Linked DNA regions of Homo sapiens: region 2 is linked to region 1. Evidence: fine-mapped expression QTL. A gene starts in region 1. The other region holds a variant in brackets. All regions are shown on one strand. Distances are from middle to middle. Region 1 holds the start of XPC-AS1 (XPC antisense RNA 1). Region 2 holds the start of XPC (XPC complex subunit, DNA damage recognition and repair factor).

The links. PIP is the estimated chance that this variant, and not a neighbour inherited with it, causes the effect.
Region 2: its variant is fine-mapped to the expression of XPC-AS1 in whole blood (INTERVAL, PIP above 0.99).

Annotation. Positions count from the first base shown.
Region 1 is chr3:14,144,607-14,152,866 of GRCh38, reverse strand. XPC-AS1 (XPC antisense RNA 1) reads right to left here and starts at 3,305. Exons shown (of 2, transcript XR_001740603.2): 1 at 3,265-3,305; 2 at 1-3,025. XPC (XPC complex subunit, DNA damage recognition and repair factor) reads left to right here. Exons shown (of 16, transcript NM_004628.5): 11 at 451-532; 12 at 3,919-4,053; 13 at 4,136-4,305; 14 at 4,866-4,959; 15 at 5,488-5,577; 16 at 6,708-7,720. The coding sequence ends at 6,926. RefSeq lists enhancers at 1,512-2,012, 3,630-4,314, 7,978-8,087.
Region 2 is chr3:14,172,828-14,181,221 of GRCh38, reverse strand. It overlaps XPC (XPC complex subunit, DNA damage recognition and repair factor), which reads left to right and starts at 2,621. Exons shown (of 16, transcript NM_004628.5): 1 at 2,621-2,756; 2 at 8,160-8,355. The coding sequence starts at 2,654. LSM3 (LSM3 homolog, U6 small nuclear RNA and mRNA degradation associated) reads right to left here and starts at 2,405. Exons shown (of 4, transcript NM_014463.3): 1 at 2,341-2,405. The coding sequence starts at 2,361. RefSeq lists enhancers at 2,312-2,361, 2,462-2,811 and a silencer at 2,862-2,981. The variant C/T (reference allele first, on the strand shown) is at 4,399.

The DNA of each region.
Region 1 (8,260 bases):
GGGTTCACTGCCCCCTCCTGGACACTTCCCTCCCCCACATGGTGTTAACAGCAGATCAGAGCCTCAGCAGGTGTTCGCTTGGTGGTGGTAGTAAACGTGAGTGTGCCTGCGCACAGCGGCCTTTACCCCATCCTGATAGTCTGCAGCTGGAGCTCTCACAGGCTCTGGACAGCAGAGGAGAAGAAAACCTATGAAGGGGAGGAGTGGTGGAGGCAAGGCACAAAGGCTGCAGATTAGGGTTTGTAAGTGGACACATCCCCCAAAAGACAGGCAGTCCACGTTCAAGGCTGTTTGCCTAGCACAGCTTCTCTGGGCCCCCTAGGAGCTCGGCCTGCTCCAGGGTGGCTGAACCTGAGGAGGGAGCCTGCAGGGCTGCGCTCTCCACTGTCCCGCATTCCCGCAGTGGGGCTGTGGACTGAGTTACCTTTGTGTCCTGTGTTGGTTCCACAGGGATTGTGTGCACACTCTGCATTCCAGGGACACGTGGCTGAAGAAAGCAAGAGTGGTGAGGCTTGGAGAAGTACCCTACAAGGTAACTGGAGCTGGGGGGTCCCTGTGGGGAGTGGTGACACAGGCCTGTAGCTGAGCGGGAGAGCTGGGGGCAGAGAAGTGATGATGAGCCTCCCAGTCCTGCCCAGGATCCTGATCAGAAATGTCTCACTTTCCCGGCTTGAGCAGGATTCAAGGAGGAGAGAAACATTTAAATTGTCTTATTAATAAGACATTTGTAAGAAATGGATCTTCCAAAACACAAAAGAAATCTAGGCCAAAAAGTAGGCCTCAGACTCCTGTTGTGAATTCAAAGGTTCTACAGGTTGGAATTGAGTTACTGGGTCCTGGGAGGTCAGAGCCCTGCTTTATAGCAGCACGTTCTCCAGTCAGATTGCCCTTCTGTTTGGCAGTTCACTGAGCATTTTGCATGTATGTGATCTCTGTTGCCTCAAAAGCCATAGGAATTGGCATTATGATGCCCATTTTACAGATGAGAAAACTGAAGCTCAGGGCAAGTGACTTGTCCAAGTCCCCACAGTTAGTAAAATGGCAGAGCAGAGCCCAGGTGAGAATCCCAGGCTCTGCCTTAAAGCCAGTGCTCCTTTCACACTGTGCTGCGGCACTGTTAGGCTGGTTGCTCTTGAGGAACACGAACCGAGCGAGGTCCCACAGAGACTATTCACAGGACACACAGCTCCGTACGACCGGAAGTGTACAGTGGCTGATCACAGAGACCATTTACTTCTCATCAGACCCCAGGAGTCCTTGGGGGTTGCAAGACTCCGGGAAGCTGAGTGGGGAGTGGAGGGGCCTCCGCTTAGTGGGAAAGGCTGCAGGCGCTGGTCACAGTCACTGCCAGCAGCAGGCTGGAGTGGGCGATGCCCCCTGCCTGGGCCTGCAGGGTTGCTGAGGATTTTCTCTGCACCATCTCACCTGTCTTTTGTGCTGGAACCAGCATAGCAGTGTTCAGTTGAAATGTAACGTGAGCCACACATTTAAATTTTTTAGTAGCTACATTAAAAACCAAAAACAGGTGGAATTTTAACATTAAAATATATCCAGATATATCTAAAATACTATTTCAGCAGTAAGAAATATTTTAAAGTGTTGATGAGATATTTAAATCCATTTTGTTCCTAAGTCTCTCTAATCTTCTGTGTATTTGACTTTCTGTACCTTAGTTCAGACCAGCCACGTTTCAGGTGTGCAGTGGCCACACGTGACTGGTGGCTGTCATGGTAGCACAGTTCTGGAATCCCAAATCTCTCAAATTCACCCCTTGTTCTGATCCCCACCACCCCAGCTCCTGCCTCAGTATCTTTTGCTTGGGCAACAGCCACAGCCTCCTTCCCAGCCTGAATCCATTCCCCTGTCAGTCACTAGGCTCTTTCTGTGCATCTTGGCCATCCTTGTCCCACCTTGGCCAGCGCCTTTAGTCTGAGTCCCGCACCCTCCCCATGGTGCACAGTGATGTTCTGGTGCTCACTGCCTCTGCATTCCAGAGGACTTAGGCCCCAGGTCCCAGTGTTCTCCCACCTCTGTGCCCTGTGGGGTCCAGCCCTGTTCTCTTGGGCAACCCCTTGCCCCTTTAAGCCTCTGCTCAGGCGGGACCTGTTTTGAGCAGCCTTTCTTGCCTCCACTGTCCTCAGGGCTGGGCAATGGCTTGCCTCTGAGCTCCTGTTCCACCCTGTACTCATCACGCTGAGTCGTAGCTCTGTCTCTTCCCCTGCAGGAGCCTGAGCTCCTAAGAGCAAAGACTGTCCTCGCTCCATCCCTCCTTCATGACTGGGTCATGGCCTGGTCTCCAGGAGATCCCAGTGGAAGTTTACTGAACAGTGTGCTGGGTGAATGGCTTCTCAGAAAGGGACGGTTGTCAGAACTCAGAGTCCCTCTGTCCCTGAAGTGGTGACAGAGAGGGTGCGCCCAGAGATCATGGCAGGAATGGACATGAGAGCTCGCAGGCCACCCCCAACCTGGGGAATGGCTTTTCACATTTTTAAAGGGTTATAAGAATGAGAAGAATAAAGAATATGTGATGGAGGCCACGCATGACCCTTTACAGAACAAGCTTGTGGGCCCCTGCACTAGAGGAAGTCTGTATGCTGAGGCCCAGGGGCCAGCCCTCAGCCGCACGCCCATGCCTGACTCCTCTAAGAGTTACGTGACTCTGTCCTTGCCTGTCCTGCGCCCCTCTCACCACTTCACTCCCCAGGGAAGATCTTGGCCTTGGCCACTGCACGCTGTTGGGGAGCACACTGGGAGTCCTGAACTGTCAGTGCTTTCTAGGGCGTGTGAGCAGACATAGGTTATATGTTGAGACACAGGCTCTACTGATGGACAGTTACCTGAATTGTAAATCCTGGTTCTTGTCACTTACCAGCCATCAGCTCTTAAGTGACTTTGTCTCTCAGTCTCAGTCACTGCTATCAGTGATGACAGCACAGAATATAGGCTAGTGGATGAAAGTGTGGGCTCTGGCCCTTACGAGCTGTGTGACTTTAGGCAAATCATTTACCCCGTCTGTGGTGTTCATCTGTAAAATGGAAACAATAATAAGACCTACCTTGTGGGTTTGTTGAAAAAATTAAATAATAACATATAAAGCACTGAAGATAGGCTGGGCGCAGTGGCTCATGCCTGTAATTCCAGCACTTTCGGAGGCCAAGGCAGGTGGATCATTTGAGGTCAGAAGTTTGAGACCAGCCAGGCCAATATGGTGACACCCCATCTCTACCAAAAATATAAAAATTAGCTGGGCATGGTGGCGGGTACCTGTAGTCCCAGCTACTCAGGAGACAGGCACGAGAATCACTTGAATCCGGGAGGTGGAGGTTGTAGTGAGCTGAGATCACACCAGGGCACTCCAGCCTGGGCAACAGAGTGAGACTCCGTCTCAGGGGGATAAAAAAACAAAAAACACCGAGAATAGTGTCTGGGACAGAGAATGTTCCATAAATGTTAGCTAGTGCTTGTAGTAAGAAAAGGGGAGCAGCCGGGCACGGTGGCTCACGCCTGTAATCCCAGCCCTTTGGGAGGTTGAGGCGAGTGCATCACCTGAGGTCAGGAGTTCGAGACCAGCCTGGCCAACATGGTGAAACCCCCGTCTCTACTAAAAATACAAAAATTAGCCGGGCGTGGTGGCAGGCACCTGTAATCCCAGCTACTCAGGAGGCTGAGGCAGGAGAATTGCTTAAACCCAGGAGGCAGAGGTTGCAGCGAGCCAAGATTGCACCACTGTACTCCAGCCTGGGCGACAGAGCGAGACTCTGTCTCAAAAAAAAAAAAGGGAGAAAAAGCACCCCAGCTGGTAGGTGTGTTCTGAGGGTTCACCAGGTACCAGGCATGCGGCACTGAGCATGGTGCCTGGCCCGGTGCTGAGGAACTGGATGCCTTTGTTGTAAACGGTGGCCGTGTCCTCTGGTGCAGATGGTGAAAGGCTTTTCTAACCGTGCTCGGAAAGCCCGACTTGCTGAGCCCCAGCTGCGGGAAGAAAATGACCTGGGCCTGTTTGGCTACTGGCAGACAGAGGAGTATCAGCCCCCAGTGGCCGTGGACGGGAAGGTAAGGGCAGCATCAGAAGGGCTCAGGACCAGGCCGCCTTGTTCCCCTGCTGGCCAAATGCTGACTTGCTCACCCGACACAGGTGCCCCGGAACGAGTTTGGGAATGTGTACCTCTTCCTGCCCAGCATGATGCCTATTGGCTGTGTCCAGCTGAACCTGCCCAATCTACACCGCGTGGCCCGCAAGCTGGACATCGACTGTGTCCAGGCCATCACTGGCTTTGATTTCCATGGCGGCTACTCCCATCCCGTGTGCGTGAGGGGCCTTCGATGGAGGCTAAACACAGGGATGGGGAGGGGTGGCTCCAGAGATGGGGATGGAAAGCTGGCATGGGGCTGCTGGGAGTTGAGGCCTGGTGGCTCCAATTTTCAGGATGTTACACTGGATTTGCAAAGTCAGTGCTTTACCAATTCTGGCTTCCCTCCAGAGGGAACGGAGCCAATGAAACTGGCATCGTAATGCTGGATTAAAACGTTCTTCCCAGGTTTAGGGACTCACAGGCTAGTGAGCAAAAAACAGTCAGCATCTTTCCCCGGCAGCTGCCTGGTTAGTGAGCTCTGTTCCATGATGGGTGAGGCTGGATAGGGGCTTTCACCCCAGCTTTCTTCGGCAGAATCTGGGGAGGAAGAGGCAGTGCCAGCTTCCACAGGCCTGCCTTCTGCACGGAGGATGTGGGACACTGGCTGACCCGCGACATCCTTCAGGACCCCTAGTGCTCAGATGTGGCCCACTGTCTTCCACAAACTGGGGAGGGAGGAGAGGCAGAGCAGGCAGCAGGTTCGAGGGTTGACATCGCGTTGTGTCCCCACAGGACTGATGGATACATCGTCTGCGAGGAATTCAAAGACGTGCTCCTGACTGCCTGGGAAAATGAGCAGGCAGTCATTGAAAGGAAGGAGAAGGAGGTAAGCGCATATGCAGGACTGAGGGACAGCAGAAGCGGGAAGCAACACTCAGCGGGTGGCCTCTTCCTTCCCCAGGCCGCCTCCGTGTGCTCCCAGGCTCTTCCCAGCCCTCTCTGACATCATGGCAGGCACCCGAGGGAGCGAGCACTGAATACAGCAGGCTCCTGCCCACCCCGCAGACTATCACTGTCCCTGAGGAGCCTGGGTCCGGGCTCTGGGGTCTACTGCCCCTGCTGCCCACACCTGCCTCTGTCTTGAATTGCCTGTGTCCAGGTTCTGGAAGACCTCACCCACTAAAGATTTTGGAGTCAGTAACGATTAAAAAGTTATCTGTTTTTGTGGCTTTCAGGTATAGTATATCACTTTGTAAATCAGATCAATTTTTTGGAAGTGAGACTTGGTGTGAAGGAGAGGCTATATTCTAAAGTGGTGTATATATCTGTCTTTACATTCACAGTTTCCATCTTAATATTTTTCCTGAAAATGTCAGTGCTTAACACTTTTCTCCCACTTCATTTTTGCCTGCAGAAAAAGGAGAAGCGGGCTCTAGGGAACTGGAAGTTGCTGGCCAAAGGTCTGCTCATCAGGGAGAGGCTGAAGCGTCGCTACGGGCCCAAGGTCAGTGCAGGTTCTTTGCAGAGAAGACAAGCTCAGGGTCAGTTTCTTGGAGATGCAGCTCAGAAAGGCCTGGCCCAGATTCTGCCCCAGCCTCAAGTCAGGGATAGCTTTGTGTTAGGACACCTCAGTCTTCTGTCTCTAAGGCCGCTTGTTTTTACCTTGTTGGGAAAGGTGTCCCTGGAGTGAGGCCTCAGCTGGCTCTTCTGCCCCAAGCCCTGTCCCAGTGTCCCCGTTTCTACTGTCCACATGAGCAATGCCATGGGTCTGATTTGGCGCTGAACACATAGGGAGGGCCAAGTGTCCTGCATTTGGTGCACCCTTCCGCCTTCCAGTGTTCCCAGTGCCTGTGACCATGCTGCAGGCCTGCAGTGGCCCGCTCAGTACCTCTCTCACAGCACCTGCCATGTGCCAGGCCAGGCTTGGACACAGGTGTGAATTTGACATGCAGCCCTCAAGGGGGCCCCTCCCTGGGGCAGATGGACCCTAGGCCCAGTTACATGGTATAGTCAGTGCTGTGTCAGACACAGCAGAAACTGCTCTGGCATGTTTTGTTCCCTCTCTCCAACCCTCTGTGCTGCCTGTTTGCCTTTCAACATTTTTTTGTCACGCTCCTCATTCCAGTCCCTCTGGTGGAGAAAAGCCCTTCATCTGACTTTATGTTCTGACCAGCTCCTTGCCGCCTTCTCCATCCAAACCCTCCCTAGCCATCCCAGCTGGCAGGGAGTGCCGCCTCAGATCTTAGGGCTCCGAGGGCTGAACTGTGCATCTTGCCCGTTCAAGACATCATGTGCTTTGGTCCAGAAATGAGGTAGCAAATGCAAGGCACGAATCACAGGCATCCCCAGATGAGGCAGTGTGCTCCTAGAGGGCAGCTTCCTGCCCAGCCATCATCCTTGTGTTCCCCTGCACTCAGCTCGTAGCAGGTGCTCCAGTGTCTGCTTGGATGCACCCCAGGCTGGGACGGCTCAGTAAGAAGGGTCTGGGCTCTCTCCCTGCCCTGTCCCATGCCCTTGTCCTCCCAGAGTTACACAGCTTAGGGCAGGCTGGGAACTTGCTGCCTCTTCATGGGGCTTCCTGGTATCTGATTACTAACCCTCGCCTGTGTCCTCCCACCACTGCCACCTGTCCAGAGTGAGGCAGCAGCTCCCCACACAGATGCAGGAGGTGGACTCTCTTCTGATGAAGAGGAGGGGACCAGCTCTCAAGCAGAAGCGGCCAGGATACTGGCTGCCTCCTGGCCTCAAAACCGAGAAGATGAAGAAAAGCAGAAGCTGAAGGGTGGGCCCAAGAAGACCAAAAGGGAAAAGAAAGCAGCAGCTTCCCACCTGTTCCCATTTGAGCAGCTGTGAGCTGAGCGCCCACTAGAGGGGCACCCACCAGTTGCTGCTGCCCCACTACAGGCCCCACACCTGCCCTGGGCATGCCCAGCCCCTGGTGGTGGGGGCTTCTCTGCTGAGAAGGCAAACTGAGGCAGCATGCACGGAGGCGGGGTCAGGGGAGACGAGGCCAAGCTGAGGAGGTGCTGCAGGTCCCGTCTGGCTCCAGCCCTTGTCAGATTCACCCAGGGTGAAGCCTTCAAAGCTTTTTGCTACCAAAGCCCACTCACCCTTTGAGCTACAGAACACTTTGCTAGGAGATACTCTTCTGCCTCCTAGACCTGTTCTTTCCATCTTTAGAAACATCAGTTTTTGTATGGAAGCCACCGGGAGATTTCTGGATGGTGGTGCATCCGTGAATGCGCTGATCGTTTCTTCCAGTTAGAGTCTTCATCTGTCCGACAAGTTCACTCGCCTCGGTTGCGGACCTAGGACCATTTCTCTGCAGGCCACTTACCTTCCCCTGAGTCAGGCTTACTAATGCTGCCCTCACTGCCTCTTTGCAGTAGGGGAGAGAGCAGAGAAGTACAGGTCATCTGCTGGGATCTAGTTTTCCAAGTAACATTTTGTGGTGACAGAAGCCTAAAAAAAGCTAAAATCAGGAAAGAAAAGGAAAAATACGAATTGAAAATTAAGGAAATGTTAGTAAAATAGATGAGTGTTAAACTAGATTGTATTCATTACTAGATAAAATGTATAAAGCTCTCTGTACTAAGGAGAAATGACTTTTATAACATTTTGAGAAAATAATAAAGCATTTATCTAAAGATTTGGCTCTATATTTTCTTTCAGATTTTTTTTTTTTTAAGGGGTCTTACTGTCTTGCGCAGGCTGGACTCCTGGGCTTGAGTGGTCTTCCTGAGGGCTTTGCCTCAGCTGGCCCTCACAACCACCGTGTGTGGTGGAAAGGCATTGTTCGGGAAACAGTCCCAGCTCCTCAGGACTGCAGGCACCCACACACCACTGCCGTGCCCAGCTTCTTTCAGATTTAAGTCGGTAATAACACCCAGGTGACAGAGCAATGTATTCATATGTTGAGACAGCATGAAAGAGTCCATTTTGTTTTCATGGAGGCTGGAAATTCATTACATATGGAATTCTTCTGTATTTAGTGAAGAGATGTTAATCTTTGAGAGGAGCCATTAAAAATCGGAGTCACTTTTATCCAAGGGAAACAAACAAAACACTTGAGTTATGACTCATATGTGGCAAGAGGCTGGCTGGAACCTCTTGTTGAGAAACAGACTGGGGTTGCTATGGAAACTGGTCTCACACTTCCTCACCAGAGCTCGGCCCTCCTATAGAGG
Region 2 (8,394 bases), 28 kb before region 1:
GACTTTAGCTTTATCTCAAATATTATGTAATCATTGGAAAAACACTCACTTAATGCCTACCATACACTAGTCAGAATGCCAAATAGAGGTGTAGGTTTATGGGAAGATTATGAATTCAGCACAGGTTGAGTTTAGGCTGCCAACTGGTGAATAAGATAAATATATTTAGTAGCCAGTATAGAACACTGGTTGAAAGCACTGGCTTAGCCGGGCATGGTGGCACATGCCTGTAGTCCCAGCTACTCCAAGGGCTGAGGTGGGAGGATTGCTTGAGCCTGGCGAGGTGGAGGTTGCAGTGAGCCAAGATCGTGCCACTGCACTCCAGCTTGGGCAACAGAGTGAGACTCTTGTCTTTTTTTTTTTTAAAAAAAAAAAAAAAAAAAAAAAAAAAAAAAAAAAAGGCAAGCAAGCACTGGCTTTGGAGTCAGGCAGTCCGGGTTCAACTCCTGGCTGTGACCTGACATTTATGAACTGAGATTAAAAATCATGCCATCTGTAATTCTCAGATTCTTCATTTGTAATTGAGAAAGCCACAACCTTCTTTCTGGGTTCTTATGAGGATTAAACTAGTTAATGCATTTAAAAACAGTGCCAGGAAAACAGAAAATATTAATATTTAGAAATGGTTCCTATTGGCCGGGCGTGGTGGCTCACGCTTGAATCCCAGCACTTTGGGCGGCTGAGAAAGGCAGATCACCTGAGGTTAGGAGTTTGAGACCAGCCTGGCCAACATGGTGAAACCCCATCTCTACGAAAAATACAAAAATTAGCCAGGTGTGGCGGCACGCACCTGTAGTCCCAGCTACTTGGGAGGCTGAGACAGGAGAATCACTTGAACCCAGGAGGCAGAGGTTGCAGTGAGCTGAGATCACGCCACTGCACTCCAGCCTGGGCGATAGAGTGAGACTCCATCCAAAAAAAAGAAAAGAATAGAAAAAAAAAGGAAAAGAAAAGATTCCTATTAATATTATATTATTACAGAACTGCTGGAAACATTGGTTTTAGAGGTCAGGGCTAGGATGACTTGGGGTCACCCACATGGAAGGGATGGTTGCAGCCGCTAAGAGTTAGAAAGATTATTCAAGGAGAGCTTCTTCAGTAAGTACACAAGGCCAGTGGAGGAAGGTAACTGAATTGGTAACAGGCTCTGAAGATTCAAAAGGCCTGATGAGAGAAAAAAATAACCTAACTCAACTGGTCCCTATGTCCCTCAGTTCAACAAGTGTTTGTTAAAGGATCAGATAACCAACTGTTAGATTACAATGATAGAGAAGTCACAATCCCCACCCTCAAGGAGCTCATTCTACTGTGGAGAGGCATACAAATAATTATAATACTGTAAGAATATGCACATGAAAAAGCCCTACTGCTACCTAAGCCTCTGTCTGGGATGCCCACTGTCTGCTCTTTTCATCCTGTAGCTTTAAATATTGGCTTCTCAAAGAGGCTTCCTCTGATCATCTAACTCATTCACTCAAATATTTTTTGAGTGTTTCCAGCACTGTTCTAAACCCCAAAGACAAAAGAATGAACAAAACAAAATCCCTGCTCTTATGGCATTTACATTCTAGTGGGGAGAGATTCACATTAAACAAAGATGCATACATTTAATATGAAAAAATAACTCTCTATGAAGAAAAATGAGGCAGGGTAACCAGAGTAGCGGGAGTGCTATTTGGGCAGAAGTCCTCTCTGAGGAGGTCAGATTTCAGTAGAAAGTTTAAGTTGTGGCATGATCTCCAAAGATATTTGAGGAAGAAAAAGACCAGGTGAAAAAGCTTCTAGGACCATCTGTTATTCTGCATACCAGTTCCTTGTTTCCTTCACAGCACATCACAGTTCCTGGAAGTCTTACATATTTATATTTACTTTTATCTGTTCTCCTCGCAAATATAAGCTCCAAGTAATGGCAAGGATCTCTTATATGTCGATGTCAGTGTCCCTGGCCCTTAGAACAGTGCCTAACCATACAAAGCTGATGTTCACTCTATCTGCTGAATGAATAAATAATTGTTGCGCTCACTAATGATAACAACTCCTAACTTTATTACCTGGCTTTCTATTGGAATCCTGACAGCTCCATGAGGTAGCTAAGGATAATAATCTACAGATTTAAAAAAATGAAGCGAAGAGTGTGAGAATAGTCATCAGGTGGGCTTCTAACAGGAAAAGGTCTCAGGGCCTACGGCAAAATTCGGAGGGGGGGTTACGGAAAGGACAGGGTGGATTAGGCCATGGTGACTTGGAGAGAGGAGGCACGACTGGCCATTTTTCCTGAGTCTGGAAAAAGCAGCCTAGTACAAGAAGCTCCTTCGAGCGACCTCCTTAAAATACACTTACCTGGTCTACGTCGTCCGCCATGTTTCAAACCCTGCGCCCTTTCCCGCCTCTCGCGAGAACACAAGAGCAACGTCAATCTCCGGAAACGTGAGGATACAATACACCGGAAATAGAGAGAAACCTGTTGTGCTCTTTCCTGCTTCCCGCAGTTTTTTAGTGGCCACGGGTATGGGGTGGAGCTTCCTTTAGGGGCGTGACTAGGCCTCCAACGAAGGGGCGTGGCCAAGCGCACCGCCTCGGGGCGGGGCCGGCGTTCTAGCGCATCGCGGCCGGGTGCGTCACTCGCGAAGTGGAATTTGCCCAGACAAGCAACATGGCTCGGAAACGCGCGGCCGGCGGGGAGCCGCGGGGACGCGAACTGCGCAGCCAGAAATCCAAGGCCAAGAGCAAGGCCCGGCGTGAGGAGGAGGAGGAGGGTGAGAGCGAGGCCCAGCGGGCTTCGCGGGAGACGCCGCCGGTGGGCGGAGGAGGCCCAGAGGCAGGGCGGGAGTCCAGACGCGGAGGCCTGGTGGAGGTTGCTGCGCGCGTTCCGCGCCGTGGGGGCAGCCCGGCAGGCTGCGGCCGGCCCTCCCCGCTGTCCCCGCGTCTTTGTCCTGCGCACCCAGAGCGGTTTCCCGCGAGCTTCGCCCGATCCAAGCTCCTGCGTAGCTTTTTTCCCGCTCCCCGTTGTCCAGAGGATACAGATGTTCAGGGTTGAACTCGGAGAAGGCAGTTATTTGTGTCCCAGGAAGACAGACGGACGGACCAGGACGTAGAGTGATGCAGTGTGCTGACTCCCGAATGATAACTTCAGCTGAGTCTCACCCAGAGTTCCACAGTGGGATCCCACCTGACTTCCCCTCATGGATATTTGATAGGCTTCTTACATTTGTCATGGGCAATGCAGAACTCATGGTTTTCCTCTTTAAATCTATGCTTTCCTCCGTTTTTCCAGTCTCAATACTTGTTATAAAGCAAAGCCCACCTTTTTCTTATGTCCACACATCCAGTCCGTCAGCAAGTCCAGTCAGTTCAGCCTCAAGAGTGTATTTCAAATTTGTCCACTTCTCTTCATTTCCATGACCACAGCCCCTGTCCAAGTCATCATCACCTTTCAGTTGAGTGACTGCAGTTTCCTCTTTACTGGCCTCCCAGCTCTGCATCCAGCAACCCAAATAATCTTAAAAAAAAAAAAAATCATGCCCTGCTCCTGCTTTAAACTCCCCTTGGTTTTCCATTGCTCTTAGCTTAAAATCCAGTTGTTTTATCCTGGCCTACAAGATACTACATGTTTTGGCTCTTGCTACCTCTCCTGTTTCTCTTACCACTTGTTTCCTTGCCAGATACCCTCCTTATTGGCCTCCTTTCTCTTCCTCAAATATGCCAAGTTATTCCTTGAGTCTTTTCCTTTGATGTTCCTTCTGCCTAGAGTGAACCCCCCATGGCTTTTACCAGGGCTGATTTTTTCTATTTCTTCAAAACTCAAGTTAGACATTCCTTGAGCAAACTAAGGTGGTCCTTCCCAGATACCCCGCGGATACTAAAACCTGTGATGCTCAAGTACCTTATATCAAATGGCCTAGTGTTTCCATGTAACCTATGCACATCCTCCGACATACTTTAAATCATCTCTAGATCACTAATAATACCTAATACAATGTGGATACTATGGAAATAGTTGTCATGCTGTATTTTTTAAATTTGTATTTTTTTTCCCGAAATATATTCATCTGTGGTTGGTTGAATCTGTGGATGCAGGGCCCGTGGATTGGTAGGGCTAAATGCTAAATAAATATTTTATTTATTTTTTATTTTTTTCGAGACAGTGTCTCACTCTGTCGCTGAGGCTGGAGTGCAGTGGCGTGACCTCCGCCTCCTAGGTTCAAGTGATTCTCCTGCCTCAGCCTCCCGAGTAGCTGGTGTTACAGGTGCCTGACACCATGTCCGGCTAATTTTTGTATTTTTGTATAGATGGGGTTTCGCCATGTTGGCCAGGCTGGTCTCAAACTCCTGACCTCAGGTGATCCGTTTGCCTCGGCCTCCCGAAGTGTTGGGATTACAGGCATGAGCCACTGCGCC[C/T]GGCTAGTAAATATTTTAAATAATTGCAAAATGCAGGCTGTAGAAGGAATTTCTGGGTCTCCTGAAAAAACTGGGTAGATTAGACTAGGTAACCGGCAAAGGCTATCACACTAGATTCTGTTTCTATACCGGTTATAAATTCATCATCCATTAGGAAATAGTGAAATGGTAATAATTCGTAAACTTAGGAGGTGATTTACCTCATATGTAATATTACGAGTTCCATTTTATTCACTCATTTACTCATTCAAATAACATCTTTTGAGTATCTACTATGTGCTGTACATGAATGAGGTGACATGAGAGATAAACATATCTTGGAGGATCATAGAGTAGTGTTGACATGACATTTACATGTAAAACATTCAAGGCAAAGTGTGCTAAATATTGTGGAAGAAGGTACAAGGCTTTGTAGCTTCCAAAGGATTAATCAAGTTTGACTGGCGTGATCGGGGAACGCTCTCTGAAGTAGTTTGATCTGTGATTTAAAGGATGGTTGGTATTTTAGCAAGGGGTCACAAAAAGGGGCCGGTATTCTAGTCAGAATGTAATTTGGATATATGGCAATTAAAAATTTACGGTTTTAATCTGATGGAAATGCTACCTGTATTCTTCCCAGCTCAACACTTCACCTCGGTTCCAGCTTGGTAGAGCTTCAATTCTTAGTTTTATGCACTTGGGTGAATTATTTTGGACAAATGTTTTAGCCCTTCTGAATTTCCTCTGTGAAATGTAATAACTGCCTTGCGGGGTGGCTGTGAGTTTTCAGTGGGATAGCATATAAAGCCAAGAGCTTTAGCTTTACCCATGTTAGGTAAATTAGTTGGGCTAGCTGGTGTCATTCAGCCTAAACGGAGGTAAAGATGCACCCAAGTTTATTCTGCTAGCCAGAGGAGCTAGCAGTCAGTTCCCAAGGCAGCTTCCAGGATCTGCAGAGTTACAACCTTTGTTGTGGTTTGGTGGTTTTGTGGGGAAGCATAGACTTAGCAAGTATGGTTTGGGCTGCAGATGACAATAATTTGGTGACTGTCAGTGTAGTTGCTAACACTGTAATAGTGTAGGTTTTAATAGCACCCCTGTACATGCAAATGAAGGTGATACTTGGCTGCTTTTGACAAATAGGAGAAAAGAAAACAGGCTTCCACATGATTTCCTTTGTGTTACTAAAGCACCTCTGGTTTCTTTTCATTTCTTCTCTGTGTTAACACCTTCAGTGATATCCATTAATTCCTTCAACAGCTGTTTATTGAGCGCCTACTATTTTCACACACTGTTCCAGGTACTAGGATAATATTGAACAAGACAGATGAGGCACCTGCTCTCATGATTATAATCTGGGGGGAGGGGTACTTAGAGCAGATAACAAGTTAAAAAAAAACGGATTCACATGATGATAAGAGCTATCACCCTGTGCTAAGACTGCTGTGATAAAACTTATTTGGGTACATAGCAGAAAATGCTTCTATAGATGAAAAGAAAAACCCTCAAACTTATATGGGGCTGGGGGAGAGGCAGCTAAATGGGAATCAGTGTCAGGGAAGGCCTTTGTAAGGAGGTGGCATTTTGAGGCATTTAGTGTAATTTTGAGCCATTCATAGGAAGTTCTGGGGAAAAGAGTTCTAGGCAGAGAGAACAGTGTGTTTAAACACTCTTAGGAGGGAATGAACTTGGCCAGTTGGCTGGACACAGCGAGCGAGGGGCTGGGTAGGAGAAGTGAGCAAGGGCCTGAGCTTGGATACCAAGCTAAGGAGTTGGAATTTTATTCTGAGTGCTATGAGTTGCTGCTGGAAGGTTTACTCCGGTGTTCTTATTAAATCCCAGTAGATGGGCAAGCAGACCACAGTGGTAATTCCTGCCCTACTGAAAGAACACTGAACTCAAGGAGTCTGGTTAGGCATATTAGATAACTCAAGATTTTGGAGAGTCCTGGAAAAGAGTCTCTAGATGCTTAGGGACCAAAAAATAGCAGAGAACAGAAAGTCACCCATATTTCTGCCATCCAGAAATAGCCACCATGAAATAGTGGTCTGTTTCCTTCTAGTCTGTTTTTTATATAGCAGAAAGCATACTGTAAAATCAACTTTGCATGAGTAACATTACATCATATATCGTTTTTCTTTATCTTAAAGGATGACTCAATTATATTTTGTTGTGTGGCTCTGCCATAAGTTACTTAACAATTATCTCATGGTTGGACATTCAGATTATTGTTAGATGCTTTTGAATACTATGAACATCCTTTTGATTCAGAGTTTTTGTGTTTCCTTTATCCCCCTTTCCCTTTTAACTCCTCTACCTTTCTCTTCAAACGGAAATAAAAGCTGTGCTTTTTAACCAACTAGAAAAGTTTGTGATGCCTCTGAAGTATCCTCCTACGTGCATTTTTTTAGATTAGTAGAAATTGAAGTGTTTAGCATCTTTGCCTATTATTAGAGGGCTAACTACCATTGTAAGATCCAGAAATCTTGATTTTAGGGGCACCCTCCTCAAACTGTCAAATCTTAAGCTTTATGCAACCTCTGGCCTTGGAGTAGGCAATCTGTTCTCAGATTTGAAAAAATTAATTTTGAAATAATTTGTACTTCAAAATTTTTCCTTATTTTTTGGTTTCCATACAATGTTTAAAAATGGGAATGCATAAATTCCTTTTTTATAAAACATTTAAAGAAACAACGGAATCAATGATCTAACATTAAAATAAATGCTCCTTTGTTATGAATTTTATTAACATTTAATCATGATTTCATTTAGATCAGAAGGGAGAGTCTTTTTTCCCTCATGCAAAAGTATATTCTTGTGGAATATAAATACCCATCCAGAGAGTCAGCAAGACAAACAATGAAAAGACTGAATTATTAAATAATTTTATATTTTAGGTTAATATTGCAATCCCTTTTGGAACCTCAATAAAAGGTAGAGTATTTTTATTTTCTAAAATTAATTGAAGCAGAGTCATGCAAAGACAAAAGATTTATTTCAGATTCAAGATAATTTGTGTGAATATATTTGCAAAATAGAAAACTATCCTTCCCTGCCATATTATTTGTTAAAACTAATCTATTAATATAATTATTATATGTAAATAAACCATAATTTTAGATACCCCAATTTGACTAAAACCAGCAGCTTATGCATTTTTTATTTCCCTTTAACAAAAAAATAATTACTTTAAGAAAATACTTTTGAATTATTGCTGTCTTTTTCCAACTGTAAGTTTGCTGAGGTGGTTGGTATATGAGTGCCATTTGGGTTACATTGGAAAGGTTTCAGAGCAGTATGTGTTTTGAGCAGTTTGGTCTTGAAGGTTGGCAGAAATGTAGATTAATAGTAATGATGTTGTGGTAAAACTTGGACATGTTTATGTACTTAACATTTTACTTAGGAGTACATTATCCCTAAGACAATTAATTTTGGCAGATAATAAATAAGGTGCTAATTAATGGATGTTGTATTTTCCTGGCAGGAGGTTAGCTGACATTTAAGATCTGGAAGTTAGGTTTTATTTGAGTCCTATGGTATTTTCTGTAGTCATAGGAGAAGTAAAGTGCTGATAAAGGAAGATGGTTTTTACTGTGAATATAGACTAGCCGCAGGTGGGAAGAAGCTGAGAGCTGGTTGCTGACCAGACAGGGGATGGTGAACCAGTGATGGAGATGGGGTTTGGAGACAGGTCATAGAGCCGTTTTATGCCCCTGCCCATAAGCTGCACTGCCTCCACCTTTCCTTCCACCCCTCACCTTATGTTCTGTGTTGTCACCTAGATGCCTTTGAAGATGAGAAACCCCCAAAGAAGAGCCTTCTCTCCAAAGTTTCACAAGGAAAGAGGAAAAGAGGCTGCAGTCATCCTGGGGGTTCAGCAGATGGTCCAGCAAAAAAGAAAGTGGCCAAGGTGACTGTTAAATCTGAAAACCTCAAGGTTATAAAGGATGAAGCCCTCAGCGATGGGGATGACCTCAGGTGAGATGTCTGCAAAGCTTTGTCTCGGGTCTTGATTTT